Homo sapiens: one gene and its partners. The protein of the gene in region 1 purifies or fractionates together with the protein of each later gene. This does not show direct contact. Each region holds a gene or a part of one and is shown on either strand. Other genes may lie near its edges.

The links.
Region 2: the proteins of TMOD2 (region 1) and SCIN purify together in Homo sapiens (affinity purification with mass spectrometry; 3 studies listed by BioGRID and IntAct, with this or other methods). This does not show direct contact.
Region 3: the proteins of TMOD2 (region 1) and RRM2B purify together in Homo sapiens (affinity purification with mass spectrometry; 3 studies listed by BioGRID and IntAct, with this or other methods). This does not show direct contact.

The regions. Positions count from the first base shown.
Region 1 is NC_000015.10:51,745,444-51,756,708, forward strand, and holds the start of TMOD2 (tropomodulin-2), read left to right. Parts: upstream 1-6,153; 5' UTR 6,154-6,269; intron 6,270-11,265. UniProt on the Homo sapiens protein: Blocks the elongation and depolymerization of the actin filaments at the pointed end. The Tmod/TM complex contributes to the formation of the short actin protofilament, which in turn defines the geometry of the membrane skeleton.
Region 2 is NC_000007.14:12,571,704-12,582,570, reverse strand, and holds part of SCIN (scinderin), read right to left. Parts: intron 4,508-10,867; coding exon 4,353-4,507; intron 1,512-4,352; coding exon 1,350-1,511; intron 1-1,349. UniProt on the Homo sapiens protein: Ca(2+)-dependent actin filament-severing protein that has a regulatory function in exocytosis by affecting the organization of the microfilament network underneath the plasma membrane.
Region 3 is NC_000008.11:102,206,773-102,217,639, forward strand, and holds part of RRM2B (ribonucleoside-diphosphate reductase subunit M2 B), read right to left. Parts: intron 7,387-10,867; coding exon 7,282-7,386; intron 6,118-7,281; coding exon 6,004-6,117; intron 1,514-6,003; coding exon 1,361-1,513; 3' UTR 1-1,360.

The DNA of each region.
Region 1 (11,265 bases):
CACCTGAAAATCAATGTATTACAATATATTAACAGAATAAAGGGAAAAACAACCCACAGGACCCTCTCAACAGACACAGAAAAAGTCTTTGATGAAATCCAGCACCCTTTTGTTATAAGAACATTCAACAAAGTGGGAATAAACAGGAACTCCCTCAAACTAGCAAGGGATGTTTACCAGTGAACACCATCCAGAAAGTTAAAAACACACACCACACACACACACACACAATGGGAGAAAACATTTGCAAATCGCATATCTAATAAGGCACTTGTGTCTAGAACATATAAAGAACTTTTATAAATCAATAGCAATAAAACAAATAGTCCAACTGAAAAATAAAGTAGGCAAAGGATTTGAATAGACATTTCTCCAAAGAAGATATAAAATGGCAAGTAAGCACATGAAAAAATGTTCAACATCATTAGTCATTAGGGAAATCATTAAAATCACAATGAGATACCACTGCATATTAACTAGGATGGCTATAATTTTAAAAAGACATTAACGAGTGTTAGCAAGGATGTGGAGAAATTGGAATTTTCACCCATTGCTGGTTAGAATGTAAAATGGTGCAGATACTTTGGAAAACAGTTTGGTGGTCCCTCAATATGCTTCATATAAAGTTACCATATGACACAGTAATTGCACTCCTAGATATATACCCAAGAGAAATAAAAATATATCTGTACAAAAATTTGTATATGAGTGTGCATAGCAACATTATTCATAACAGCAAAACTGTGGAAGCAGTCTAAATGTCCATCCACTGATGAACAGATAAACAAAATGTGGTCTATCCATGCAATGAATTCTATTTGGCCATAAAAAAGAATAAAGTACTAATGTGTATTACAACATGGATGAACCCTAAAAATATTATAATTAGGGAAAGAAGCCAGTCATAAAAGACAACATGTTGTATGATTCCATTTACGTGAAATATCCAGAATAAGCAAATCTAGAGAAGACAAAAAATAAATTTGTGATTGCCAGAGTCTGGGTGTGTAGGGGGAATGAGGAATGAGTGCTAACATGTCTGTGGTTTCTTCTGAAGTTTTGAAAACGTTCTAAAGTTATAATAGATTGGGAGATAGTTACACAACTCTGTGAATATACTAAAAACCATTGAACTGTGCATTTTAAAAAGGTGAATTTATGATATGTGAAATATGTCTTAACAAAACTGTATTTAGAGAGAGAGAAAGAGAGAGAATGGTTTAATAAAGCTCCAACACTCAGCTTCAACCATTATCAACTCATGGCCAATCATTTCATCTATACCCCACCCCACCACTCTACCCCGTCTCCCACACTCGATAATTTTTAAAGTAAATTCCTGATATTATTTCTTCTGTAAATAATCAGTTTATCGCTCCAAAAAGTAAGGACTCTTCAAAAAAATAATCATGATACTGTTGTCACATCAAAAAATTTTTTAAAATAACACCTTAGTCCAGGCATGGTGGCTCATGCCCGTAATCCCAACACTTCGAGAAGCCAAGGCAGGCAGATCACTTGAGGTCAGGTGTTCGTGACCAGCCTAGCCAACATGGTGAAACCCTGTCTCTACTAAAAAAAAAAAAAAAAAAAAAAAAATACGAAAATTAGCCGGGCTTGGTGGCACACGCCTGTAGTCCCAGCTACTTGGGAGGCTTAGACATGAGAATTGCTTGAACCCGGGAGGCAGAGGTTGCAGTGAGCCGAGATCACGCCATTGCACTCCAGCCTGGGTAACAGAGTAAGACTCTGTCTCAAAACCAACAACAACAACAACAACAACAAAAACTGTAATGCCAGCACTTTGGGAGGCTGAGGCAGGCGGATCACTTGAGGTCAGGAGTTTGAGACTAGCCTGACCAACATGGAGAAACCCCATCTCTACTAAAAATACAAAATTAGCCAGGCGTGGTGGCGCATGCCTGTAATCCCAGCTACCTGGGAGGCTAAGGCAGGAGAATCGCTTGAACCCAGGGGGTGGAGGCTGTGGTGAGCCGAGATCACGCCATTGCACTCCAGCCTGGGCAACAAGAGCAAATCTCTGTCTCAAAATAATAATAATAATTTTAGAAAACAGACCTTAATATAATCAAATATTCTGTGTTCACATTTTCCCTAATTGTCTCATTAATGTGAATTTTTAACAGCTGCTTTCTCAAATTAAGATCACACATTACATTTTGTTATTTGTCTCTTGAATTTCTGTGTATCTATAAGCTTTCTCTCCTTTTATTTTTCTTGCAATTTATTTATTGAAGAATCAGTTGTTTGTCATGTAGAGCTTCCTATATTTTGGATTTTGCTGATTGCATCACTGTGGTATCATTTAACATGATCATGATTACATAGTAATTAGCTTTTAGATGTTTGCTGTCAATTATACTACACATACGATTTAATTCATAATTCATCAACATAGTCACTGCTCCTTTAGTCTTTATCATCCACCATATCCTTTGAAGCATCTTTGACACAAATTATCTCAGTTAGTCTTTCTAATAACCCCATGTGGTAAGTATTATTATCCTCAGTTTAAGAGATGAAGAAGGCCGGGCCCGGTGGCTCACGCCTGTGATCCCAGCACTTTGGGAGGCCGAGGCAGGTGGATCACAAGGTCAGGAGATCGACACCATCCTGGTCAACATGGTGAAACCCCGTCTCTACTAAAATACAAAGAATTAGGCGGGTGTAGTGGCAGCACCTGTAGTCCCAGCTACTCAGGAGGCTGAGGCAGGGGAATCGCTTGAACCCAGAGGTTGCAGTGAGCCAAGATCGCACCACTGCACTCCAGCCTGGTGACAGAACAAGACTCCGTCTCAAAAAAAAAAAAAAAAAAAAAAAAAAAGATGAAGAAAATGAGGCTTAAGGGAGGTTACAGAAACTTGGCCATAGTCATTGTGCCAGTAAATATCTGGGTTCAAACTCTCTGATGTTAAAACCCATGTTGTTATCTGTTATATGATAATATCCCATCACATTGCCTGTGGTTTGTGGTGGTTGTTTTTAATCAACTCTAGGAAGCAGTCTTTCAGTCCATCCAAAGAATGTACTTTCACATTTCATCTTTAACACTTAGGATGCTTTCAGCTTCAAGTAACAGAAAACTCCATCTCAAATTGACTCAACAATAAGGTTATTTATTATCTCATATAACAAGAAATCCAGAAGAAGGGCAGCACTGGGGCTGGTTGATGACTGACTCAACAACAATATGGCCGACCCAGATTCATCGTATCTCTTTACAATGGCCAGAACTGGGTCACATGTCCACTCCTAAACTCTTACAGGCCAGTTAAGAGGATTCTATTCCTCTTGTCTATGATAGATTTGAGAGTGTACCTCTCAGAGGCTAATAGGGTCACCTTTCCTAATGTGTAAACACCCATATAGGCTTCTATAAAGAAGAAGAGGGTGGACTGAATGTTTAATAGACAACCAACAGTGTCTACTACCTGTTCCTAATGAGGTGTGCTACATATTCCACTGTGAATAATTAAAATACTTCATTATAACTGCCACGTTGAACTTTTTTCCTTTCTGCCATTTGACAATTACAGTCAATATATCAGCTTCCTCATTTACAGGAAGAAATGGCTACACAAAATGATATGTAAGGTCCCTTCCAGCTCCAGGAGTTCTGTTTCAATTTTACATTTTCATCTTCTAAAAAGCAAGTAGAAAAGTTAAACTTACAAGATATGGTCCAGAAATGATCATGGGTTTCAACTGATAAGTCATAGGCATATTGACATCCTTTCTTCCTTAAGATAAGACATAGGCAATAGATTTAAAGAGCTAAACAGACTGGAACTGGTAATATCTTTCCATTAAGTTTTAACATTAGGTTAAATGTTCTACTTCCCTCACTCATCCTTTAACACCTTCCAGCTTCCAACACTCATCATACAGACAGAGACTGATCAGAAGTTTCTTTTCACAACTCACTTTATTTTGGTGTCAGCATCCTCCTGGAGCATGGCTCTGGGGCTGTAGGATAGCTCTTGTATCTCTGCTTCGACTGCCGAACATGACTTTAACTTAAATCATTCCCCTGTCTGCTTCCTTTCATGGCTAGTTTCTGAAGGAATACTCTATTCGTTTTATCACATGCAGCCATTTTCCTCGTGCAGAACCACGGGAAACCAAAGAGAAATACTGTACACTACTGAGCACCTTTGCTACTCTTTCTTCCAATATGAATGAAATTGCTTTATTATTTTCAGCATATGCCTACTATCAGCTTTCTCTGGGAAAACTGCTGGCTCGATCCGTAAGCAGCCCTGTTCTTATTTAACAGAAGGCTATGACTGTAACAAATGTACAACATAAAAAAGTCAAAGGCATCCTGTCGGTTACACAGGACATTCGGAATAACAAATGTACAGGAAAACTTGGGAACATGACTTAAAGTAATTTGGTCACACCCCCATTTCATTTAACTCTTTCTGGCTCAGATTTGTCATTCTGACAGGAGGCCCAAGATATAGTCCATTACCACAATTGATCATAGAAACAACACTGGTCTCTCAGTCAGCAGCCACTGCGTGCCAGTGTTCATCATGCTAGTTCCCAGAGTTTTAGAGGATTAACTTTACTTTCTGGTTCAACCCATCTGCTGGGGAAGGTATGGCCCTATTTTGCAATGTGCAAAAGGGAGACAGTGCTGGGGGTGCCCACAGTGGAAGGAGAGAAGACAGGCTTACTGAACACCCCTATGACCTTGAATAAGTCACATCACCTCTCTGTGCCTCTTATTAACTATCATTGGGGAAAAATACCTTCACTCTGCCTGTCTCACAAGGGTTCTTGTAAAAATCAAATGAGAACACAAATAGGAAAGTATTTTCATAAATGCAAACCAGTGTTATCATTTTCAGATGTGGAATTTCCTCTGCAGCACGTTTTTTTGGCCACACGATTACTGCACACCTCGTGCCAGACAGACTATAAAGCTGTTTCACCTCTTTTCACATTTTGCCTAAAATTTCATATAGAGATTACACCAGCCATGCTGCATCCATCCCTTTGGTTCATTTTCCTCCACTACATCTGTGAATGCAAATCCCACCATCATGTGAAACACTGCATAGCAGCAACTTGCAAAACTCAACGAACCTTAGACTGCCAAGATAAGTCCCATAAGCAAAGGTTATGCTCAAAATATGCTGCAAAAGTTCAAGAAGGAGAGAGATATCACATCTAATTAGAAAAGGCCTCTGGAAGTTAAATCTAGATGCCATGTATTTTCATAATGTTGGTCTTTGTCCTATGTCACCCCACTCTGCTGTCATGCTTCAGAAACTTGACTTTATTTTCTCTATCTTTGGAGCTCTCAAGAACCTGGCAGACAGAACATCTCAGGGTATATTCAGGGATGAAGTGAACGGGCTCAACGACTAACAAACCCAGTGGATTTTAACATTTACCCAGCCCAACGAGGTCCAACTATCTTTAGGTTAGCACGACATATAGGACTTTCCCGGCCCAAGAACTCCCTCGGAAACCCCAAGGAAGGAACTTTCACTGAGTATGCACTAAGTGCCAGATCCTAAGTGCTATGGGTCGCTTAATCCTCACAACACTTTTTCAAGCTTGAAGCCTGTTTTACAGATGAGGACGCGAAGGCTCAGACAGGCTAAGTTGTCCGGTCTCACCTCAGTGAAGCCGCCACTGCGCTTGGGCTCTCCAGCCCCTCACGCCATCACCCTAGAGCCTTGCTAACTTCCACCTCGCTTACCTCCTTCCCTCCCTAGGCTGCCAACCCAACTACTCTCTCCTCCCACGCCCACGCCCAGCCAGGAAAACCTGGGGCGGGCGGGGTCTGTACCTGAGACCGCTCTCAACGCGGCTTCCGTGTCAGGATGCTCGCTCACAGGAATGCTCATCACAGGCTTGAAAGCCTTTGCCATCCACGCTCTCCGGAGCCCCGAGCGTCTCCAAAGAGCCTGCCCAGGCTTCTCCCCGACCCAGGTGCTTCCTCCCCTGCAGAGCTGTGGCGGGGTTCAGACCCCGATTCCGGGAGAGGACACCTGTCGGGGAAGGGCGGGGCTGGGGGACTGCGGGGCCGCGGCGAGGCTCAGCCGGGAACTACGCTTCCCAGCCTGCTCCGCTGCAGCCGCGCGCCCCGGCGCCGCGCCCGGCCGGGAGCCGCCTGTTGATCGCCGCGCTCGCCCCGGCCACGGCGCCGCCCCTGTTCTCCCGGCCCCGCTCCACCGGGGCTGACGGACTGACGGCCAGCACAGCCGGCTCCGGGATGAGCGCACGGACGGGTGAGCGCCCCGGGGGGCGGGTGGGGCCTGTTCTGGACAGCCGGTGTCTGCAGCCCCCGGGCCCGCAGCGCGGTGGCCGCCGTGCCCTCCCTGCCCGCGGGAGGATGCTCCGCGACATGGGCGGTCGGCCGGGCGGGCGTGCAGAGCCGGGCCGCCTCTCGCCTCTCGCCTCCCGGCCCGGTCGGCTGCGCCGGGAGACCAGGCGCTGCGCCCGGGCGGGAGGCGCCCGCCGGGGTGTGAGTCCCGCGCCCCGCACTGCGGTGCCGCAGCCTCTGCAGCCCGCTGGGCCGCAGCGGGGAGGGCGCGGTCTCCTGTCCTCCCGGGCTGCGGGGCTGTGTTCTTCCACTCCGGGCTTTGTTCCCCCACTTTTCCCCTTCCTGTGCATGTTTGGTGAGCTCCTGGAGCGGTATGCATCTCCCTGCCTCGTTCAGCAGGCGATGGGGAGGGGTGGACTGGCCGGCGTCTTTCCTGAGATCGCTGGAGCTGTCACTCGCAGGGCGTTTCAGCCTCCCAGTAAGCGGCCTCGTGCGGATCCTCGAGAACCTTATTATTATTGTTATTACTTTTCTGGTTAAAGTAATTGTAGTATGTGCTCCCTTGAGGCTTCCTAAATGTTCCCTGTTGACCTGCGGAAATGAAGGTGGATTTTTAAAACAGTAATAAAAGGCTTCTAATGGGAATTTTTAGAGTATTCAGAGGTAGGAAGGTGATGCCGTCACAATGCAAATTAGCAGTGAAGGAGGCCGTGCTTACTGCAGCTTCGTCTGTGCCCATTACATATCTGAATCACGAGGCATTTAGGACGGGAATGAAAAGAAGATCGGGGGAGGTGTTTTAAAAACCAGGTTCTCCTCTTAGCTTGACCATTCAGGAGCTGAGGGACCTGGGCAAGTCCCTCCACCTCTCTGGGCCTCTGCATGTAAAGGGGCGTTTGGGCTAAATGATTTGTAAACCTCTGTTCTTCCAAGATTCTCCCCTCTCAGGGAACTGAAAAGATGAGAGTGTTTCTGTTTAACAGCACTACAAAAAGCCTAATTGTGACAACAAGCGCCTCTACCCTAGTGAGGAGGAAAGATTTTTCAGAGCTTCAGCAATCTGATTTTTTTTTAAAGATAAAACTGATTTTCTCGATCGACTCTCTTCAGTCTAACCCAATAAATACGCATTGCAATCATTTTAATTTTTGTAAGGTACTGTACATTGGTGGGCAACAAAATGATGGGGTTTGTTTTTGTCTTTAATTTGCTGAAGGTGAAGTGATGGGATCAGCAGATAAAGGATTAGTGGCTCCCTAGGGCTGGGCACGAGTGGTCAAATGTGGTCAGCATGGAGGTCGGGGAGGAAGCCCCAGCAAGAAGTAACCAGAATGTGTATACACAGAAAAGAGAAGTTGCGTACTGATGGATCATTGTTTGAAAAAGAAATATGCAATAGAAGGAATGAGAGAATCAGGAACTCGGCGCTCTGCAAACCTAACATAACAGTTGAATAAGGCAAGGACTTACCAACTGGTCCAAAACCTTTGAGTGAAAGGTGGTTGGGGAATAGGATTTTCATATTATTTCAAAGTATCTCACCACAGTTTACTCTGGGAAAATTTGTCCTTACAATGGAGAAATTAGGAGGTCACCACTGGAACCAAATGACCAAGTTTAGCAGCATCTACTGCGAGTCTCCCGTTGTGAAGCAATAAGGAGGCATAATTTCACCTCTGTAGTGTTCCTGCAAAAAGACTTGGCGATGGGGCAGAGCAAATGGGAGCAACTATTGTAGGTTAAAATACTCAAGTGATACAATAGTGAATTGGGATGTGTGAACTTTGAATCCTAGATGCAAAAAAAAAAGCTATAAAAGACAATTTGGAGATAGTTGGGGATGTTTGAATATGGATTGCATGTTAGATGATATTATGGAATTGGTGTTAATTTTCTTAGGTGCAATAATAGTTCATTCTTGTGGTTACCTAGACCAGACAATCCTTATTCTTTGGAGATGTGGATATTGGAGGTGAAGTGTCATGACATCTGCAACTTTCAGCTGTGTCAGAAAAAAAAAAAAAAGGATAGGGGTAGCAGAACAAGTTCAGGAACGTAGCAAATGTGGCAGAATGATGACGGTTGGTGAATCAAGAAGAAAACAAATGTTTATTGTACTATTCTTTTAACTTTTCTATAGATTTGAACTTTAAGAAATGGGGAAGTCAATAAAATAAATAAGCGAATAAAGAGAAAGTGTTGTAGAAGACGGGGGTGGTTCGTGACAAACAGCTGCAGTGAATCTGTGGGGAATTTCTTGGCTTCACCTTCCCAAAATTGAAATCACCTATTGGAGGTGTGAGTGGGGGGGACGGGGGGTTGGTGTTCCCATTTTTGGTTTATCTTGGCTACTCTCAATCATTTATGCTTAAGTACCCCATCCTCTAGCTTCAACTTCAAAGTATTAGTAATTCTCCATACCTAAGAAATTCTAGCCCTACCCAAGAACCATCCCGAAAGTGCTGTCCCTTTCCTCTCTGTGTCCGAGATCTGTGTCAGTGTGTAAGGAAGTTTGAGAACATAGGCAGTGGTTCATTTTATTTTGGGTTAGGGTAGTGTTGGGGGAAAAATGATTTAGCTTTGTGATAGGATAGAAGTTTTGGGGTTTCCTCTCATTCCCTTGTGTGTAAATCATATACAACCAAATGTTTTCCTTATAGACTTTAAGTGGTTCAAAGAGGTTCATAGAAGGCATGTGCAGAAGAGACTTCCTGTTACCAGACCACGAAAACAGAATCAACTCTTACAACACTTAATCTCTTACACGGAATCCCTTGCTGCAAAGATATTTTTGCTTTACCTGGATTATATGTGTTTATGTATACATGAAAATACTAATTTAAAGTATACATATTTACTTGCATGAATGTCTGTGTGTACTTGTGAATCTCTCAGTCAGTATTCCCCAAAATACATAGAATGTTAATGGGTTACAAGAAAAAGAAATTGCCTAGCCAGATGTGGAAAACACTAAACAAAGCTGGACAAGTTGGTTTATTCTTGACTTTTCAGAGCCTTTCATGGGTTAATGATCATTGTATATGGGGATGTAAATGGGGTGGGAATGTCCATAGGATGTGATATGTAATGTTTCCCAAACTGTGTGCAAAAATAAAAAATGAAAAATATCTTGAGGGGCTATCGTTACATGGAACCACCTTTGAGAAACTGCCTTTAATGCATTTTTGAGTGAAAGGTCAGGACATATGATTAAATGTGTAAGTTGTAAGTATTTGTGCTTCACATTACTTACAGATTAGAATTCAAATTTCAGTTTCTGGTTTTAATGGATCATAACAGTTTGACCCCAGTCTACTTTTTCATCCTAAATTTCCTAACTTTCTTCCTATAAATTCTCCTGCTTAGTCCTTTGTTGTATACTATGAACCATTTTTATTTTCAGCACACCAAAAAGTCAATTCTACGTAACTTTAAGGCTTCGTGGTTGTGTAAAATGAGATGCGCTCTTCTGCTATGGCTCTTCCATGGACTGAAATAGCCACCTTTCCTCCCAAAGCCATTTTGAGTTCCTTGGCCTTGGTCCCATGTTTCAGCACAACCTTCCTTAAAGCTGTGATTTCTTGCTATTTCTGCTTTTATGATTTGCCATCCTGTTTTGGCATCAAGGCTGCCCCACTAATTACCTCTTTCACATGTGTCATCACTATTCCTAGGTTCCCCTGGTGAGAGCTAGGTAGGGTGGGGATGAGAAAGTCAACTCCAGGACTGTGAGTGGCAGGAGCTCACAAAATAGGGCACAAGGCCAGCCATGCCAAGCCTGGACATGAGGAGAAAGGAGACAAGCTGGGGCACAAGCCCTAAGAAAGGACCAGGAGGTCCCTCATCAGAGTGGTTAGAGGAGTGTGGAGTCCAGTGAGCTGGGCTGCTATTCAAGCGGTGTGCATGGGGACAACTGTCCTCATTGTTGATAAACAACCATTCTGACTGGGCAGTGTCCCTTCTATACCAGTTGCTAAATGTTTTGCACATCATCTAGGTAAGCACTCACAAGTCAGGGTGCATACAGCATCCATAAGTCATTACAAAACCTGGATCAAAACCTAGCTGGTATAAAATGCCAAAGAAAGAGACAAGATGAGTGAGTCAAAGACCACATAAGCAAGCAGAAGAAAGGAGGGCACATGAATCAAAGGACAAAAAGCAGGAAACCCGGTGCCAATCAGGAAGTTAGAAGAAGCCCATAAGTTCCCAAAGGCAAGAGGAAGGACATGGTTAAAAGCAACAGGCAGTTAAAACCCAGAAAGGCGCAGATCTCCAAGTGGAAGGCAAGGAGATAAATAGAGGTCAAGCAAGAGGAACTCCTCTAAAAACAGAAAAGAAGGCCAAACACAGGGACAAGACAACAGCGGGAAATAGGACCCGCCATGAGAATTAGAAACCAAGAGGCAGGCTGGGCAGACAGCAAGACTTTTTGGCTTTTTGACTGCTTCCTACCCAGGTGGAAATCTATCTCATAGCTTGGCTAGCTTACACTATGGTGGCTTTCTACACCTGGCAATGCTGACCCGCAGCTCTTACAGGTTTTGCCTCTTTATATTCAGCAGATCTTGATGGGGAAAACAGAGGGAAAGAACACCTAAAACACGAGATTATTCCACAACCAAGGACGAAAGAGAAATAGCTTTGACTGAGGGCTTGCGCTTGCTAGACACTGCGCCTAATATGTACATGGTCACCTTAAGTGTCACCTCAGCCTTCTGAGATAAGTACTGTTCTTTGCATGTTTTACTGAGGAAGGACCAGAAGTTTGGAGAGGTTGTCACTGCACACATATCTGCACCATCAGACCTTGGGTTGGTTAACTCCAAGGCCCGTGCTTTTAGTCTTCTGTGTTCTTCTAACCTTGGACAGGAGCAGTCACTAGTGGGCACCTTGTTTTTCAAGTATGATTTAATCTTTGGCAAGTTTGTGTTGTAAGATTGGGAAATACGAGCTCTGCA
Region 2 (10,867 bases), on another chromosome or scaffold:
ATATTAAGAATTGTACTTTGGGCATTTATATTATTGTGATCTCAACTTTGCACACAAGCTGGTATGATCCAAGACAGTTGGATTATGTATAAGTAGTAATAAAACTATAGATGCACGCTCACTTAAAGAAACTGATGCAGTTTATACTTTGGGGTCATTTTCTAAACAATGTATAACCTTAGTACATTTAATCTCTGTACTGTTGTTAGATTAATATTGCTTAAACAGAACTTTGTAACTCTATTTTCAGAATCTTTTGTGCCCTCCTCTATGCAGATGGAATAAGCTCTTTTGGCTTCTGTCTACTGCTTTATCCCAAAATACTGCCCAAGTAGATGCAATAAAACAAAATGCTTCGTGGGGAATCAGATATGCTGAGAGTCTAATCCTGCCTTCACCATTTACTAACTTTGCAACCTTGAGCAAATTCCATAGACAAGCCTCATGCTAACTGAAGCAATGCAGGTCAGCTCATGACTCCGTTACAACGTTTGGCCCAGAAATGTTAGGAATGATAATTAGAATGTTGAGATGTATGGTGTGATGAAAATGATGATAATGAAAAGCAGGAAGAGGAGAGCCTTATAAGTTCTGTGCTTTCTTGCTTTCATTGCTTTTGCACATGGCTTTTCAGTGGAGGGAAATGCTCTTTATTTCTATTATAAAAACTTCACAAAGTTTTAAAGACACAACTTATATTCTACCTTCTAGGGTCTAGCAAAGGGTCTTGAAATAATGCTTCTTTGTCATGACAGTAATGATTAATAAGTATACCTGATATTAGAGGAGCGTCTTTTCCAGGAAGAAAACATAAGTCAGATATAATATACCATTGCCCATGCCATTAAGATAATACTTGATATTTGTACTTGTGCTAATTGAAAAGTGTGAAATGGTATGGTGTGTGTATATACGTACATCAAAATATGTCTTTAAAATTCTTTAGGTGGCTGTTTAGATTCATCTTATGTCCATATTATATTCTAGAACCTTTTGTTGCTGGGGGAACCAGTTTCCCCCTCAAGCTATGTTTTCCCATGCACAATTAGAGACAAAAATAATTAGAGGAAGCTCTGTTCAGAGAGAAGGGGAAATGTATTAAAAATTAGTCAATTTCTGTTCTATGGTAGGAAGAACTAAATCACTATTCTAAACCTATCAAAGAAAATAAAAACTTTGAAGTCTCACTTCATGCGTCATTTAAATACTTGGCAATTACTCAGCTCACATAAACGTGGCCCCTTTCTGGTGTGTAGAAAAAGTGATTCTTTTCAATGACATGTACATATGATTTGATCCGAAAGCAATTCACTTTTCTTTAGACATCGATGTGTATATATGAAACTTACGGTGCCAAGGTCAATGATGAAGCAGTCACCCTTGTTGAAACTGTCCCAGCTAAGGGGAACTTCTGTGGCTCTCACCACTCTACGACCCTTCACATGTAGGAGCCTCTTGGCTGTCAGGTCGTTCGTAAGAACATGATTTAATCCAGATGCCACGCCTCCAGCCTGATGAATGAGGGAAGACAGACACACAAAAAACAAAGAGAAAACTGATGAGGTGTCTGCCTAGACAAAGCAAAGCACAATAATACTGCTGGTGTTTGTGCCAAAACTGTACCTGTCAGGCCAAGTTAAAATAGCCACCTATTCCATAAAACAAGAGAGAACCCCTTGGTAATCAACAGATTGTGTTTGTTTGGTCTCTTTATTCTTTCTGTTTTAACCATTCAATTGACAACTGCAAGTATTTACTGAGAACCTTCAGTGTATAAAACGCTGCTGCAAAAACAAAAAGAAGATGCCATAGCTCTTGCCCTTTGGACACTAATGATCCCCAAATCAATAATGAGCAAGGCAAAGATTTCAGGGAAGAAGGTGACAGGTGGCTAGAGGAGGGTCAGAAGTAACACATACAGATGACAGCAGCCAGAGAAGAAGGCACCCAAAAGTTCACACTGGTACAGGGTTGGGACAGAGATGGTTGTTGAGTGCTGGCCAGGAATGGGTTGATCTTATGTATGGTCCTTGTTTTTACATTTAAAGTAATCAAATGTCTTCTTTATTTTCTGGTAAACAGGTCTTACTATTAATAAATATGCTAGGCCTGAGTGTTTTTACTGTAAGCTAGGAGAGATGCAATATCTTGGCTGTACATCCCCAAACAAAAAAAATAAAATAAAATGAAATACAATCACCCGAATTAAAGAAAGATATTAACTGTATCAACTACATCTTCTTATATTATTTGCAATGATCTTTTACCTTTTCATTTTTTCTAATTAAATGATATGAACCATATCTTTATTTCTACTATTAATTATAATTAATTATATGTGAATAACTGAGCTACAGTATAAACAAAACTGTCACTGATAGATCAAAGACCTCTATAATAATAATGGTACGGAAAATTAGAGCTAATTTGTCATTAGCACATTCTTTTCCATTGATTTTAAATTTCCACCGTTCTCCAATAAAAGTTGGTATAGATTAAATGTTAATTTCAGGACAATTAAAACTTCAAATTAAAAAAAAATATAAAATGATTTCCCAGTCCATAATTTTACAACGACTGCTACATTTCTTGGTTGAATAAACTAAGTATTATATAATTAAATAAATACAAGTTTTCATCTATGTACTCCTGTTTTGAGACAGAGTTTCACTCATGTCTCCCAGGCTGGAGAGCAATGGCATGACCTCGCCTCACTGCAACCTCTGCCTCCTGGGTTCAAGCAATTCTCCTGCCTCAGCTTCCCTAGTAGCTAGGGTTACAGGCGCATGTCACCACGCCCAGTTAAATTTTGTATTTTTAGTAGAGGGAGTTTCACCATATTGGTCAGGCTGGTCTCAAACTTCTGACCTCAGGTGATCCGTCTGCTTTGGCCTCTCAAAGTGTTGGGATTACAGGCATGAGCCACCATGCTCGACTACAGTTACTTTATTATTTAATTTATTCCTTAATACAACACCTGTATGAGGAAACTGTTATAATATTCATTGTTTGGGGAAACTGAGCACAGAAAGCTCAGTATTTTCCCTAAAGCAAACAAGTCATATGTGGCAGAAATGGGTTCATAACTATGATGGTGTCACAGCACCTGCTTTTAGTAACTACAAGACTCAATTTATTTAAAATGTTGAGTTCACTGACATAAAGGAAGTTTCAGTATCGTTTGTCATAAACTGTAGGAGCTCCTGTGAATCAAATAAAATGAGAGGTAATAGTTTTGTATTTAGGGTAGTTCATAGCCTAGAATAAAATAATCATTTCAAGAGACATAAGAGAACCTATAATGTATAAGTGTTTTGTTCTGATCTCAATAATATCACAAAATATTCAACGAAGACTCTGAACAGGTAAAGGTATAAATAAACCTCGCCATCTTAGTAGGCGGACTTAGTATTACAGTCAGAATTGTAGTGAAGCTCTAAGGTTTCAGGTCTTCACTAGGGTAGCATGCTCACAGGGCAGGGCAGTGGGGTGTGCAGAACACTTGCTGGAGCGTGTTTGATTTCGGAAATCTGTGATGTTTGTCTGGGGAGGGTATTCCTCACACTTTAACTGAACACGTGTGGAGGGGTGAGTGGCAGGAATGGTGAAGGGAGGGCCAGTCTGGAAAGCTAACTAGGAGGATGCCAAAAAAAAAAAAAAACCTGTCCTATACTGAAGGCTGCCTTAAAGGGATAGAACCATTTAACTATTTGTTCTTGTTTATTTTCAGAAGTAAAGCCAATTGATCAGTGTTTCAGACCAGTGTGCATAAATTGTGTATGTGCGTGTGTGTAGTTTACCTGCAGAATTTTAAGCTCAAAATTTTCATCTGCATCCCTTCTAAGATCAAACCACACTATTTTGGAAATACATGTATAGTTCTTTACAGTTACTAAAATTATAATTATTATAAATACTGTATTAATATATTCCAGAACAACTGAGATTTTGAAGGCTTAGGTTACTTGCAGAAACTTCAGAGATTTTCTAGAATAGCAAAAATGAAAACTTTTAAGACCCAAATTACCAAAATTTAAATGTTGAAATAGCTACAAAATATTACAAAGGTATCTTGTGAAGACACAACTGAAAGCTCTTTTAAAAAATTAACCTATCAAATTAAATTTTCACAATATTTCACATATTGTACCACACATTTCACAAACATTTATTGAACACCTACTTTGTATCCAGCAGGTACTGGGGATATATCCATGAACAAAACAGATTAAAACAAAAGCAAATAAAACAAAAACCCCTGCCCTCAACGAACTGTCATTCTATGAAGACAGGAGGTATGGATGGACAAGAGGAGAAAGGGATTCATAATGGAAACTGAGGGAGCTGCTTACCTTGTATTTCAGACCGCCTTTGAAATAGCTAACAAAGTCATTAGACTCATATCCTTGAAGTTCTCTATTCTGCACTGGCTTGCCACCCAAATAGTCATCCATCTGAACAGTGAAGATGGCAGCAGCTGTGCTTTCATCCTGGGAACACTCCTTTCCTAAAACAGTGAACAACAGCACCTCAATTATCAAGCAAGAGAAAGGATTAAGGCAGAATTTCTGATATGAAAGAAGTCAGAAATTTTCATTTCAATTATGTATCAATCCAACAGTCTTCTACACAAAGATCTTTTAGCTAAAATACTGTATGTAATACATTATTTTGCTAATAATTAACAATTTTTTTAGTCTATTTTTTTTTTTTTTGAGAGAGGGTGTTGCTCTGTTGCTAAGCCTGGAATGCAATGGCATAATCATAGCTCACTGTAACCCCAAACTCTGGGGCTTAAGCGATCCTCCTACCTCAGTCTCACAAGCAGCTTGGACTACAGGTGCGTGCCACCATGCTTTGCTAATTCTCAAAAAAGTGTTTTGTAGGGAAAAGGTCTCCATATGTTGCCCAGGCTGGTCTCAAACTCCTGGCCTCAAGCAGTCCTCTGGCTTTGGCCTCCTAAATTGTTGGGGATTACAGGTATGAGCCACCATGCCCGGCCTGTTTTTGTTTCTGCTTTTTCCAATTCCTTTAAAAATTTTAAAAAGAAACACTGTTGTGTGAAGTTGCTCAAGAAGATAAAACAATCTATTCCAATGAGATTTAAGTAAGCATTAATTTGGTAAGGTCAATAAGATCAGACTATGAAAACATTTGACAAGTGGTTTAGCCTTTATTAGGATAAATCTTTGATTTTATGATATGTCAATATGTTAACTGATGTTTGTGAGAAATATGAGCATCAGAGCCATAATTAAATAAGTGGTTTTTACAATGGGAAAATGAATATAATTTAATTTTACCCCTATTTTTTGGTCTTTTTCCCTACTTCACTATCTGACTGGTTCTGTTTGAATGAAATAATGATCTCTGGAGGAAAGGAAGAGCAAAGGAAGCAGCACGCTAACATTTATTAAGTGTTAATGTACTTGGTATTGTTCCAGGTATTTTACATACAACATACATTTAATTTTCACAATTGTAATACACATCACATCCAGGTAACTTCACTAAGGTCAAAACAATTCCTAAGAACCAGTGTCTGTAGTGTACATAAAGGATACAGTACGGACAGTCAGGAGGGGCACTCACATTTTATGGAAAACACTTCAAACTCTTTACTACATCCAAGCTGTAATAAAAATCTTAAATGACTCTAGAAATAATAATAGCCAACATTATACATTTATACTACCCCTATGGGCCAGACACTATGCCAATGTTTTACATGGATGATCTCATTTAATCTTCAAGCAACCTCATAAAGCAGAACCTATTTTCTACTAGATTGGAACAGAGAAAATGGAGGCTTAGAGAGGCTGGGTAACTTTTCTGAGGTCATAAAGCAACTTTTGGGAGAAAAAGACCAGATGTAGGTTTGTGTGACTCTGAAGCACAGGTTCTTAAAAACTCCAGTACACTTGTGGGTATTTTTTTGTACTCAGGCTCTCATTAGCGGTACAATTTTATAGTGACAAGGTATGTTAATTTCTTCCATAGATAACTGATGCATAAAAGCTTAGAAGCTGTAATAATTTAATAGTTCACATGAACAACCCTAACTGACAGTATTCACCAAAGTTGAAGAAGGCAAATCAGTCAGTTGTATTAAAGAAAGAATCAGATTTCCTTACAATTTCCCTCTTACTCTCAAATGAGACTCATATACCAAGTATCTTCTGAGGGGAAACAACAACAACAACAAAAAAAAACAACTCAGTAGCTAGAAGATTACTTGACGTGATAACAATTTTGTGAACTCGCTGTGGTCAAAGTTAAGTATTTGACACACCGGCAATTTTGCAATCTGAAAGGACTCTGGTGTCATTCTTCTGCCGATTTGGGATCCGAACCCTAACTGAGAATACCATAAAGATGTAGATGTAGATTTTTATGATGCCTTAAGAGAGATGCTTTAAGAGATAACTTGGAATCAAGGTTAACATCAAAGGTGTTAAAGATGATGTATTTGACATAAACGTCCTTACCTGACTACAGGTTGAAACCTGAATCTCTTTAGGTAGATGTAAATGGACAGGCATGAAGTTAATGAATGAACTGAAAGTAAGTTAATTAAATTATCCTATCATTTGCTGATGCTTATGTAATGTGGTTGGCCAGGGAATATCTGTATGAATAAAACAGGATGCCTGAATGAGGTTGACGGTCTTGATGAAGCCAATGTCAGCCTTTGGATGCGAAAATTAGAATCAAATCCAGTTGTAGCATGATGGAATTCCAGAAAGTATTTAGAAACTTATGAACTTTGTGTATAAAGTCTGCTTAAGAATCAGTTTAGTTTTCCCCTACGAATCTGCTTATGATTTCCATTTGTTGTTTCCCTACACTGATTTTACCGGTGTCTTTTATGTTCTGTTATACTATGCTGTGCCGTGTTATTTTATATTATGTTAGACTTGTGTACATCCTATGAATTTCTATAAGTATTTTGTGGATGTAATGATTTTATAGATAAAAAGAGAGATTTAAAACTAGGTTAATCCAACAGCCATTCATGATAAAATAAAATAAGTCAAATTAGGAATAGAGAGGAACACCTTCCAACGATAATTAGAGTCAACAAAAAACACAGAGCTAGCAATGCTGAACAGTAAAAGACTAAATGTTTTTCCCATAAAATCCAGAAAATGGGTGTGCACTCACACCACTCTTATTCAACATAGTACAGCAAGTTCTAACCACTGCAATAAAGTAAGAAAAAGAAAAAAAAGGCATACAAATTGAATATGAAGAAATAAAAAGGTCTCTATTTAGAGACAACAATATTGTTTACATAGTGAACTCTAAGAGACCTATCCAAAAAAAAAAAAGAAAACTCTCCTAGAAATAAAAAGTACATTGAGCAAATTAGCAGGATACAAGATTCATCAGTAATACAAAAAATCAGTCACATTTCTATATAGAAACAATGAACATGCTGAAACTGAAATTAAAGGCGCAATGCTATTGACAATCACTCCAAAGAAACTGAAATACTCAGGCATATAGTTTAAAAACATGTACAGGATCTGTATGCTGAAAATTACAAAATGGCATTCAAAATATCAAGGAAGACCTAAGTAAATGTAAACGCTTAGTGTTCATGGATTTTAAGACTCCACATAATAATGATGTCAATCCTTCACAAATTGATCTATAGGCCTAATGTTATTCTTACCAAAATCACAGTAAGGTTTATTATAGACATATACAGGCTTATTGCAAAATTTATATAGTGAGGCGCAGGCCCTGGAATAGCTAAAATAATCTTGACAAACAAGCATAAAGTGGGGGGAATCACTCTACCTGATACTAAGGTTTACTACATAGCTAACGTGATTAAAACAGATTGGTACTATTGAAGGATAGACACAGATCAATAGACCCAATTTCCCCCAGTAGTGGCAACTTTGTAAAATTACAGTATAGCTTAACATATTAATGTATAGTACAGTATAGCACTGAACACCACAACCAGGATATTGGCATTGATATAATCCACCTATTTTATTCGTATTTTCTCAGTTTTACTTGTACTCGTGTGTGTGTGCATTTAGTTCTATAAAATTTTATCACATGTGTAAATTCATACATCTGCTATCACAATCAAGATGCTGTATAGTTCCACCAAAAACATCCTTCAAGTTGCCCTTTTATAATACACTCTTCTCCTGCCCACATCATCCCCTCTTCACCCTATCTGTAACCAACGGCAATGCCAAATCTAAAATTTTGTCATTTCAAAAATTTTATATAAATGGGATCATACAGTATAAAGCCTCTTAGGGTTTTTCACTCAGCATGATTCCCTGGAGCTTCATCCAAGTTGTTGTATGTATCAATAGTTTGTTCCTTTTTATTGCTGAGTAGTATTAGTTGGTACAGATGTACAACTTGTTTAACCAGTCACCTGTTGAAAAGCATCTGGGCTGATTCTAGTGTTTGTTTATTCAAATAAAACTGCTGTGGACATTCAGGTACAGGTTTTCATGTGAATACAAAACTTCATTTTTCTGGAATAAATACCTATGAATGCAATTGCTGACTCATATGGTAGTAGTATATTTGGTTTTGTAAGAAACTACTAAACTCTTTTCCAGAGTGCTGTACCATTGCATGTACCCACCCCCATGCTCCAGCAATGTAAATGATCCAGTTTCTAGCCAGTCCTTCGTATAAGTTCTTTGTATCGTATATTGTAATCCAATCCTTTGGATTCCCAGGGCATTGCACAAGGCCTGGTATAGCCCACTTATAACATAAATGTATACTGCTTTAAAATATATTTGTGTGAAGTTTAAAACTGGCAAAGAGAAAGAGTGAGGATAAGTGTTTGTACCTTAGGTTAGGGATGTGACAGGGAGCAGTTTTACTATCTAGACCTACCCATTGATTTGGTGCTATAAGGAACTACAAACAGAGGTGAATGGATGCATTTAAACTGCTAGGTGCAAAGCTGAAATGTTTTTAAAGAAGGGCTAATGCAATAACATTTAAGTTCTTTGCAATAAATTTTTACTTTCATTACATTTAAGCATATGATGTTAATACATTCAAGCATGTAATGTTAATACAATAAAATAATCTGAGATATGCCAAGTGTTATGGAAACACTGAGGGAGAGACCAAGAAAGACGACTCTCCTGCTCTGTTCTCTCTTGTTCTAGGTCCAACTTCTTCCTGTTTCCCCTTTTTGCCTCCCATTTGGCCTGTTTCTTCATTTCTATGCTATGCACCTTTTTTCATCTCAGTTTAACTTTAGTTTCTCTTTCTTCCGGCTGATTTCCTTTAACCAAATGTTCTTTTCCCCTGGAAGTTCAGCTCTCTCTCCTGTGACTTTCTCTCAATCTGTCTCTCTGATGAATCCTCATGGATTCATCCTAATTTAGGTCTTAGACTACACTATTTTGGATGAAATTCTGTTTTCTTAGGGAACTGAAGTAGGAAGAGCTGTTGGGCAATCCCATCTGAAAGTCCTGTTGACTATTTTACTTGAAGCTTTTTTTCTCTCCATAATTCTCTCTTGACACAAGAACACTTCCAAGTACTCTCATTTTTTTTTTCTCTAAAGGCTTCTGTTTCCCAATAACCACAGAAACTTTGTGCTTTCACAGTAATTATCACATTCTACCTGTGTTATATCACTTTTTGTCTTTTTGCACCTTTGAGGTGATGAACTTTTAGAGAAGTTTCATTAATTATTCATATCCACAAGTGCCTTGTACAGTACTGGCCATATTGAATAATTACTGAATGAATTTGCTTGTTATTAACATGTTATTGACTTCAGTTTTAGCATGTCTTTAAGATTATAAATGTTTCTGCCCAAACCATTTTCTATTATATTTTTGAAATTTATGGGCATCAAGTGGATAATTAAGTAGATAATTAAGTGAATAAGGTGAATCTGTAAACCCTACAAAATATAGTAGTTAAGAGGACAACTTGGATAAAAATGTATAGAATTAAAGAATTGTGTTCAAATCTCCCTTGCGGTCATCTGACAAAGTCAAACTTAACTGCTGTCTACAGTAAGATATGGCATTATTTCACATTTTAATTTACTCAAATGGCAAATGTGGCATTTCAAACACTTTCATTCATGCTAGATTTAAGTTCTGCATGGAAAGTCCTCTGTAAGGACATCATTATTCTATCTGGCATCATTCATTCTTGAACATGGGTTATAAAAGTTTCAGTCTTTTCTGGCAGAAAATACAAATAGATGACTGTGTATTACAACATTATAATAGGAATAACAGCAATGCATCAAGAAGCCAAAATGTGTTCAGAACTCAGGCTGAGCCTTCTCTGCCTCCTCAAGCTAACACAAATTTTTGACTCCAAATGTTATAATTAAAAGTCTTATCTTCATCTACGTATTTTTCATTTCTCATTTCTCAAATGCCTGTTCCAGGTGTTTGCCAATGTTTAGACAGTCACTACTCAATGTTTTCTATTATTTTGTTTCTTAAAATCTTCAAATGTTGGAAATTACAGTGTTGGCTTTCAGGGACTCAAAAATGTGTAAGTGTGTGTGGTTTTGTGTGTTTTCCTCCTAAGCTCAGGGATAAAACTAAACAAACACGAGTACTGGGCAGGCTAGCTAGTTTTAAAAGAAGGCAAAAAGGCTCAGAGAATCGGCATGTTGTTAGACAGGGTGTGCCCACTGGCACAAGACCTCCTGGGGAGAGGCTGGACATTCAGGATGTTTATGAGTAAAAGTAGAAGGTGGAAAAAGAACACACAAGGCCCAGTGTCCTGACAGCCTGGCACGAACGCAGCTCAAAATAATTACTACTGCTGAAGGAGCCGTTTCTGTTCCATCTTGTGTCCTTGCTAAAATAAATAATAAATAATAACAATA
Region 3 (10,867 bases), on another chromosome or scaffold:
GACTTCTCAAAAACCTTGGTTCCCGGCCTTTCATCAGACTCTTCTAGAGAAACCTCCTTTTCCCTCACCATTGGCTATCATGTTGCATAGTCACATTAAAAGAACTATCTCTTATAACAGCTCAAGAGTTTTAAAACCATAAAGAAACACAGCCTAAGTCAATTGCTGGTACACTATTCAGGCTGGTATAAATTTGAAATGATTCAATAATCCCTACCATGTTCTCCCTTTCTCAGTCCATAAGCCCTTCCTCTATGTATAAATGGTTCTCGGCCAGCTTTTTCCAATCTTTGTTCTGAGGAACACTAGCTGGGTGAGATGTTAACAGGTAAAAAACATCTGTGTTAAGTATGTTGGGAATATGCAGGGCGAGATAAATTTATGTACCACTGAACTGCTCAGTCTTTGATGTACTGACTGTACTTGCTAAAGAAGAATGAAGTGTTCAGCATTTCCCAAACTCATCTGACCACAGAATCCCCTTTTTCCCCCAAAAAAATATCTAGAGGAGCTAATAGCTCTTAGAATATTCTTTGGAAAATGCTATTCTAGCCTGATTCTAAACATTCCAGAGCTAAATCTGGCAATAGTTATGTTTTTAATTTCTGAAGAAGAATCATTTTTCTTATAAGGTCAACTACCATGATAACCTCCTGGTTTCCACTCCATAAGTAGGCTTCCCAAAGCAACTAACAACTAAATTTTCTTCACTACATACTAAGGAATTCAAAGAACTTATTCTTGCGTGAATGAGAATTATGTTCTTTTTAAGGAGATACTTATATTCTTCCCCTAAGCATTAAAAATACAAAGATCTAATTCTAGATCCTAGGACCTAGAATCACAATTATTTTAAGGAAATGAGAGTATTTTATTACAACATCATTGCAATTAATATTATCAATGAATGATAATTAGTAGTGGTGCTAACAGTAGTAGTGTTGGTTAAGCATTTATTTTTGCATCCTAATCCTAATATCCACTCTATGAATTTAGGACCTACTATTACTCCCATTTTAAAGATAAGTACACCGAGGTTTACCAAGATTAACTGACTTGCCAAGGGTCACACACTGGAGTAAGGGCAGAACCTTAGACTCATGTCTGACCCCTCGCCCCATGCTCTTAACCACATAATGCCATCTTTTATTTCAGTGACAAGACAAAAGCATTTAGGTCACACTCTTGTTGTTAAACAGGAAAATTATATAAATGCAAATTGTTTAGAATAGGTTTTGGATTTCCTTTTGAGCAAACCCCCAGTCCTTTAAAGGATATACTTAAAATTTTTTTTAAGCAGAGGAAAATAGACTACTATTTACCAATGACAAGTTTATAGAGTTTTAAAACGAGAGGTTTTTTAAAAATCTGCATCCAAGGTGAAGACGTTATCTGTGGTTTCTGCCATAACTGCAAAACGCTGATACTCTGAAACTCGTTTCTCAAAGAAATTTGTTTTTCCTTCTAAAGAAATGTTTTCCATAAAATCAAAAGGATTTTCTGCCTGAAAAACCTAAAAAGGAAAGAAATATTATTAGACATTCTGAAGAGATCAAATTACATCCACAATAAGAGCAAAGATGACCAAAACAGAGGTCAGGTTTCTCAAAACCTATCTAGTCAGCTACAAGATCATATCATTCCCCTAAGACCCTGGAGGTACTCAAGGCTGACAAATTTTAAGATGACCCAAGATCAACCACTAATCTCCTCAAGAAACTGTACTAGCATCTCTGGTATTCTAATAAATAGAAAAAAAAACACAACTATTTCAGGAATTGAAATATTTAATACTAACCAATAGAAAATGTTCTCACAGCTTGAGATATCCAATACACCATGAGCATTTTTCATAGATATTACTATTAGTCAGACATACATGATACTATAAAATGTTAAATTAGCAACAATCCACTGTGGTTCTAAGTATGTTTCTTAGTTTATAAGAGAACAGATAATCAACAAATTGTCATTAAGGGAACATGATCAGGGAAGACAGAATAAATGTTATCCATAGTGACTAGATGTCTCCAAACAAAAAGGGGGACTATGCTAACAAGAAGCTTTTTTACTGCTTCAGAATTCAAGAAACAAGGCCGAGCATGGTGGCTCATGCCTGTAATCTCAGCACTTTGGGAGGCCGAGGTAGGTGGGATCACCTGAAGTCAGGAGTTTGAGACCAGCCTGACTGACATGGTGAAACCCTGTCTCTACTAAAAGTACAAAAATTAGCTGGGCGTGGTAGCAGATGCCTGTAATCCAAGCTACTCAAGAGGCTGAGGCAGGAGAATTGCTTGAACCTGAGAGGCAGAGGTTGCAGTGAGCCAAGATCATGCCATTGCACTGTAGCCTGGGCAACAGAGTAAGACTCCATTTCAAAAAAAAAAGAATTCAAGAAGCAGACTTGGAGATACAGCTTGATGGAAACTGTGGGATATTTCAGTGATTCACAAGGAGTAACAAAAGAGGATTTCTCAATTTAGGAGTATCCCAGCAAAAAATATGAACACTACAGATAAACATATATTCAAGTAACCCAATTTTAAATATGGGCAGAGTGTCTAAATAGACAAACTGATACTTCTTTAAAGAAGATATACAAAATGAAAAGATGCTCAGCATCCTTATCCATTAGAGACATGCAAATCAAGATCACAATGAGATACCACTTCCCACCTACTCGGATGGCTATAATTTTTTAAAAAACAGGTAATAAGTGTTGGTGCGGATGTGGAGAAATTAGAACCCTCATACAGGGTGGGAATATAAAATTGTGCAGCTGCTTTAGAAAACAGTCTGGTAGTTCTTCTAATGATTAAACATGGAGTTACCATATGATCCAGCAATTTCACTCCTAGGTGTATACTTAAGAGATATGAAAACATGTCCACACAAAAATGTGTAAATGAACGTTCATAGTAGCATTATTCACAATAGATCAAAAGAGGAAACAACTTAAATGTCCATCGAATGGATAAATAAAATTTGGTATATCCATACAGTGGAATATTATTTATTTGGTCATATAAAGGAATAAAGCACTGATACATGCTACAACATGAATGCACCATGAAAACACACTAAGGAAAGAAGAGAACCACAAAAGGCCACATATTATATGATTCCATTTGTATGAAATAGAATATGCAGAATAGGCAAATCTACAGACGCAGAATAGGCAAATCTACAGACACAAAAATTAGATTAGTGGTTGCCTAAGGCAAGGTGGGTAAGGGGAGGAAAGAGGAGTGACTGACTGCTAATAGGGATACAGTTTCTTTATGGGGTGATAAAAATGTTCTAAAATAGGTTGTTATGATGGTTGTACAACTCTGTGACTACACTAAAAACTATTGAATTGTACATTTTAAATGGGTGAATTGCATGCTATGTGACTTAATCTTTAAATAAAGCTTTAAATATTTATGTATCTTTTTTCCAAAAACTCATATGCTGGGTGTGGCTGAGTGAAATTCTATGAAATTCTCCATCAGAAATTGTGTGTAAAAAGTGAGGGAATATTGGAGCTGTAATATACAGCAAGATACAGTGAAAGGGCACTGAACCAATAGCCATAGACTCACTAGATGTTAGAACTGAAGACTTTTCAAAAAATTAGATCTAAGTCATTCATGGCATGGACAAAGTAACCAAGACCAAAAAAACAAACTAAATTAAGTGGCTTGTTTTTGGTGGGTTTTTTTTTTGACACAGAGTTTCGGTCTTTTTGCCCAGGCTGGAGTGCAATGGCACAATCTCGGCTCACTGCAACCTCTGCCTCCTGGGTTCAAGCGATTCTCTCGCCTCAGCCTCCCGAGTAGCTAGGATTACAGGCACCCACCACCATGCCCAGCTAATTGTTGTATTTTTAGTAGAGACAGGGTTTCACCATGTTGGCCAGGCTGGTCTTGAACTCCTGACCTCAGGTGATCCACCTGCCTCAGCTTCCCAAAATTTTGGGATTACAGGCATGAGCCACTGTGCCCAGCCTTATTATTATTTTTATTTGTAGAGATAGGGTCTTGCTATATTGCTGAAACTAGTGTGGAACTCCTGGGGTCGAGCAATCCTCCTGCCTTGGCCTCCGAAGTGCTGGGATTATAGGAGTCAGCCACAAGGCCCAGCTCCTACAAGTTTTGATACATAGTAATCATATTGTCATTTACTTTATATTTTCAATTAATTTTTATTTTCATTTTAAATCTCATTTTAAAGGAGATACATGTATATGCAGAGAGAGAGAGAGAGAGAGCGAGAGAGAAAGGGTCTCACTCTGTTGCTCAGGCTGGAGTGCCGTGGCACAATCTCAGCTCACTGCAACCTCTGCCTCCCAGGCTCAAGTGATCCTCCCAGCTCAGCTTCCCAAGTAACTGGGACTACAGGCATGCCACCAGGCCTGGCTAATTTTTTGTAGGATTTCGCCATGTTGCCTAGGCTGGTCTCAAACTCCTAGACTCAAGTGATTCTTCCACCTCAGCCTCCCAGAGTTCTGGGATTAGAGGTGTGAGCCACCGCACCTGGCCTAACGGATATATTTTTAATCTCTAAGTAGATTAAGCTTTTTGGCAATTTTTAAATCAGTTTCTACTTTCATTGCATTAAAAATCTAAGGCCTCTATAATTTCTGCTTTTTAGAATTTACTCAGATATTTTGAAGCCTGTGGAAAAACAAAGTTTTACATTGTGTTTAGACCTTCTCCTGCAGGAGGTGGCATGTTTTACATACCTACAGTTAGCAAGTTCCCAAAAGGAAAATTAGACCCAAGGGTCAGCAGTTTTCTAATAAGCAGCAGAACATGAACGTGTGGATGTGAGGATATGGTAATGGGTTAAAGAATAGCGAATTCACTGTAAGGCTTAAATAAGCAAATTCATTTTCTAATAACAAAAATATTGGTAAAAGTTATGAACAAACACAATTTCTTTTAATATACATAGTTTATAAGTTTAAGAGATTATATTAATATAGTTATAATCTTGATTTCTCATTAATTAGTAAACACAGAGAGGATCTTGCAACTAAAATGTTAAAATGTAGTTTATCTTACCAAAAAAACCTACGCCCCACTTGACTTTTTCATTAAGTACCTGGGTGGTTATCAGAATATAATTCTGCTATATCTGCTAATACAACATTAGCAAGATAGGTAATGATTACCACAGCATCATAGATTTCATAAGGATTCTCATTAAAGATAATTTGAACTTACATTTTCATGACAAGAAATCAAAATCTGTATTTCTAATTACCATGGTATAGTACATAGTGAATTTCTGTGTTTCACTTAAGTACAAAGTGACCATCTAGTGTGAGTTTATTATGTGTCTAATATTATTTTAAGTGCTTTAAGTGTATCAACTCATCAACAATCCTTTGTAGTAAATATTATTACTATCTCTAATTTATAGATGAGGAAACTGAGATAGTTAAGCAACCTGCCAAAGGTCACACAGCTAGAAAGTGGTGGAACCAGGATTCAAACCCAGATAGTGTGGCTGCAGGCTCCATGTCTTAAGTAATGGGAAAACCGCACTGATGAAATTCAGGTACATTATCTCTGATAAATGACAAAAATAACTTGAATAACTCTGTTCAAAGAGTTATATTGTGACAGTTAATGTCTTCCTAATAACTATTCCCTATTTAAAAGTATTAACTCCCAAACCACAATATAGACACATGGCGATTTATATGAGGGTGAATATATATATGCATATTAAACCTAACTCCTTGAAAATAATCCTATTAAATATACAGCTACAATTATTGCAAAATAATTTATTGAGCTTATTAGTTCTAATATTTTACCAGCCTCCTACTTCAGTTATTAATTTTAAATTTCAAAGGATTTTGCAAAACCTTGTTCATACAAAACAAGTCTCTGTCATTGACATTTAAAAAATAGAATAGTATGTTACAAATGCTTTCAGTAAATTATACTTTAGGGTCCTTGCTTTCCTATAATATTTTAACTAGTAGTAACACATTTTTAAACACATTACCTTTGAGAATCCAAGTTCCACAAGTAATCTGTCAGCTACAAACTCAATGTACTGTTTCATCAAAATGCAATTCATTCCAATGAGGCCAACTGGCAAGGCTTCTGTTAAAAACTCCTGGGATGAAAACAAAAACAGAATAAAGTACAAACAAAACTATAAATATGTATTTTCCAAATAGAAAGAGGACTTTCGTTTTATTTCTAAGACTGATTTTGTCCAAGGAAAGTATATTAGGATAAATTCTTTCAATGTGGCAAATGATGTCCGTATATTTAAAAACATTTGGGGTATTAACTATTCACATTTTTTCATGTTTTCGAAGAGCCAAAATAAATGGAAACGAACTACCAAATTACTGGATTTCTTGAAGTAGCAGATATAAGACTCGGATTCGTATGCTTTCTCAATAGAAAAAAAAGATACTTTGTTCTAAAATATCTGGAAAAAGATTCAAAGATGATCATCATGAAGAACATGACTATGGAAGGGAGCTGGGAAAGAAAGAAAAACTCAATTAACAAAGAAAATGAGAAAAAAGAAACAAACAGATTTGGGGGTTGGGAGATAAAATAGCTCCAACCATACTGAAAGACTATATAGTGGTAAAGCGTTAATAGAGGAAAAATAAAAATATATTAACCACTTGGATTTAGTTCTCAAAATGATTAAAGATACCAAAGTACCTGTTATGCCTTTTTCCTCTTTCAATATACAAACTACGCCTGTTAAACTACGCAGTGTTACCAAAACAAAAGCAATTTCAGAATGATAAAAACACATCCTAAGTAGCGCATCTAGCTCTTTCTAGTAAGAAATCCGTACATACCCTAACTTAATTGTTACTTTTCATTAACTTACTTATTCATTCTATAAAAATTTGTGTATGCTTCAAGCTAGGTACCTTGCTACGTTATTAAAAATACAAAACAAATAAAAAATCATCACTGTTCTCCAGTCACTAAAAATGTAAAAAAAAAAGCTACTATAATTAGCTGATCATGGCATAAAATTTGACAGAGATCAATAAGACAGAAAAATAGCCCTGAAACAGGTTTTAGTATACATAAAACCTTAATATATAATAAAGACTGACTTACTAAAGCAAATTGTAAACTGACATAATAATTGTAATATATCATGTATTGGTATTGTCAGGCTGACCAGAATAAAATTGCTGGTATTTTTATTGACCTACAGAATTTCTTATGAGTCAATATAATAGTGGTACAAACATCAGAGAAAGAGAGATGTGCTAATTACACAAACTTCCCGGTTTACCTGCTCAATTTTGACAGCATCAACAATGATCTCCCTGACCCTTTCTTCTGAAGGCTTATTTACTAAGTATTGGAACATCAGGCAAGCAAAGTCACAGTGAAGTCCCTAAAAGGGAAGAAAAATGTCATTGTCAAATAACTTTTAATCAGCTATTTGCATATGGTGATGGGTCAAGCATTGTATAAAGTGGTTCTAGGAATATAACACAGAACTTCTGGAAAATGGAAGAGGGGTTAATAGGACTAGGAACTTCCTTCTTTCAAATCTCATTAAATGCCAATACAATAACCTATAATAAAAATTTTCAATGCCAGCAAATCTTAGTTCATCAACATTATAGAAAAATTAATTTATGAACAAACAAAATCTGCAAATAAAAGCATTTTGGAAAGGAAAATAAAGCAAGAAAGCCTGAAATGAAAATTCATTAATTTTTAAATTTCAAAAATAATTAAGGAATGATTGAAAAATAATTAGTATTTAAATAACAGATGAAACTCAGATTTCAAAAATACATTTATAATTAAATAAGAAAGGCTCAAGATAAAAATGAATTCAGTTCTAATGAAAATGGAAACTGAGGTGGGGCTCGGTGGCTCATGCCTGTAATCTCAGCACTTTGGGAGGTCAAGGTGGGCAGACTGCTTGAGTCCAGGAGTTCAAGACCAGCCTGGGCAACATGGCAAAACCCAATCTCTACAAAAAAAAATAAAAAATAAATAAATAAATAAATAAATAGAAGTAAATAAAAAATACCAATAAATAAATAAGAAAATGGAAACTGAACAATGATGAATATCGCCTGAAGCCATACAAAGCAGATATGATCTTACAGATAACTCAACCAAAAATGAAAATAAACTTGTGAAATACCCGAGTATGGTTATACAAATGCAATAGAATCTTAAGTAATTGGAGAATAGGTGAAGGAGAGTCAACCTACAATAATCAGGACTCCAAAACACAGAATAGATAGTATAGAGCTAAATATTAAAAAAAAAAAAAAAAAAAAAAAGAAAATTTCAAAAATTCAACATGAAAAAAGAGAGAGGTCGGATATAGAAAGATGGAATTCCCAGGCTGGGCATGGTGGCTCATGTCTGTAATACAGCACTTTGGGAGGCTAAGGTGGGCAGATTCCTTGAGTTCAGGAATTCGAGACCAGCCTGGGCAACCTGGCAAAACCCCATCTCTGCAAAAAATACAAAAATTAGTCAGGCATGGTGCACACCTGTAGTCCCAGCTACTCAGGAGGCTGAAGCAGGAAGATTGCTTGAACCTGGGAGGTCAAGGCTGCAGTGAGCTGAGATCACGCCACTGCACTCCAGCCTGGGTGACAGTGAGACTGTTTCAAAAAAAAAAAAGGAAGAAAGAAGAAATTACCATCAAGGCTGAAAGATGTTAAAGTGTTGATGAAAACTGACAGGTAACTTATTACAGAAAGCAATACCAATCAAAATCCCAATGGAATTGGTGTGTGTGTGTTTGTAATTTATTTTAAAAGGCTTTAGAGCAGAAAAGAAAGAAAAGTACACTTCAAAGAGTCCCAAGCGGGCACAGAGGTCAAGTACCTAAATGGGATTGTTTTTAATTCAAAAGTTAATCTGGAAGGCTGGGCACGGGGGCTCATGCCTGTAATCCCAGCACTTTGGGAGGCCAAGTTGGGAAATCACTTGAACCCAGGAGTTCCAGACCAGCCTGGGCAACACAGTGAGACCCTGCGTCTACAAAACTTTTTTAATTAACTGGATGTGGTGGTACATGCATGTAGTTCCAGCTACTTAAGGAGGCTGAGGTGGGAGGACTGCTTGAGCCCAGGAGGTCAAAGCTACAGTGAGCCAGGATCATACCACTTGCACTCAGCCTGGGTGACAGAGAAAGACCCTGTCTCAAAAAAAAAAAAAAAAAAAAAAGAATAGAATAAACGGACAGAATCTTGTAAGAACACTTTCAAAAGAAAAGTTTCGATATTTATCCTACAAATTATTAAAATATATGAAACTATAATAATTAAAATGGTTTGTTATAGAATAAAATCTGATAGGTCAATAAGGAAGTAAAAATAGCCATGAAACCGATTTTAGTCTAATAAAACCTTAATAGATAATAAAGAAGACAGCGCAAGTCAATGAAGAAAGGATGATGGATTACTTAACAAGGCAAATTGGAAAAACTTCCCAAGAGTGTTTAAAATAAAATTAAATTCTAACTTATTCTTTATTATATTTATGCTAAATCCTACTTTACAAATTCCAATTGCATTACAGACTTAAAGGTTAAAAAACCAAGAAAAAAAATGTGTAATTAATTTATCTCTGGAAGTGGATTACATAAAATTTAAGGTTTTGTATGTTAAAAGAACAAAAATTAAAAAGCAAAGGATAAATTGGGAAAATATGTGAAATAAATATAAGCAAATTTGTATTTTATATTATATTTGTGCTATAAATATAACAAATGCTATAAAGGTGTACTTGTTGAAAGGACCCAATCAGTCACTGTACATTGGGAATAAACCAATGAACAAGCAAGCATGACCCCTTCCTTTAAGTATAATAGACTACTGAAGAAATAACCTTAAAATAGTGAGAGCACTCAGAGTTAAATAACAAAAATGTTAATATTGCACCAGTAATAAAGGCAAAAGATAAAAGTAGGCAACTACAGAAAAAATACAAATCACTAATATCATTATGAAAAAAGTGTTCAATCTAAGTAATAATTAAACAATGCAAATAAAACCAATAATGAGATACCAATTAACCCTATCAAATTTGCCAAACATTTAGCAAATTAATCTAAATTCTGGTGAGAGTATGGTAGAAAATGTTCATACATTGCTAGATGGGGCTGAAAATTGTTATAAAATTACTGGAAAAAAAATCTGCAAGTAAGTATGTATGAATGCTTTATAACTTAGTAATTCTACTTTTTGTGATCAAGCTTAGGAAAATAATATAAAGGGAGGACAAAGCTTATATATATGTAAAGGTATTCATTTTATACTATAGTAAAACAAAAAACCTGGAAATAATCTAAATTTCTAATTATAAAAGTCAAATAAATGATTCATTCATTAGATTATACATTTAACAAAACTACTATTTTCAAAAGGTGCTTAATGCCACAGAAAAATGATTGCAGTATTTTGCCAAGTGGAAAAAGAACATCTCAACTCCTAAATATATGAATGATTAAAATATGTTTATATATCTAAATAGAATTAAATGTAGAAAAAAAGTCTATAAAGAAATACTTCAACAAAACAGTAAATGTAGTTCTCTCTGTGTTGAGATTAATTTTTTATTCTCTCAATTCTCTATAACAATCCTATATGACATTTCTAATAAAAGTTATTAAAAATTTAAAGCCATGAAAAAGCAAAAAGTAATTATATGAAGCATTTTATGGCATTTAAAAAAATACTTTCACATACACTATTTCATTGCATTCTAACAAAACGGTTAAGTTTTATAGTTGAAGAAACCAAGGTTCAGAGAAGTTAAGGATTAGTGTAGGCAATAAATGTTAACTGAATGGCTATAATAGCCAAAACATTGAGAACAGAAAGATAAATAAAACAAAG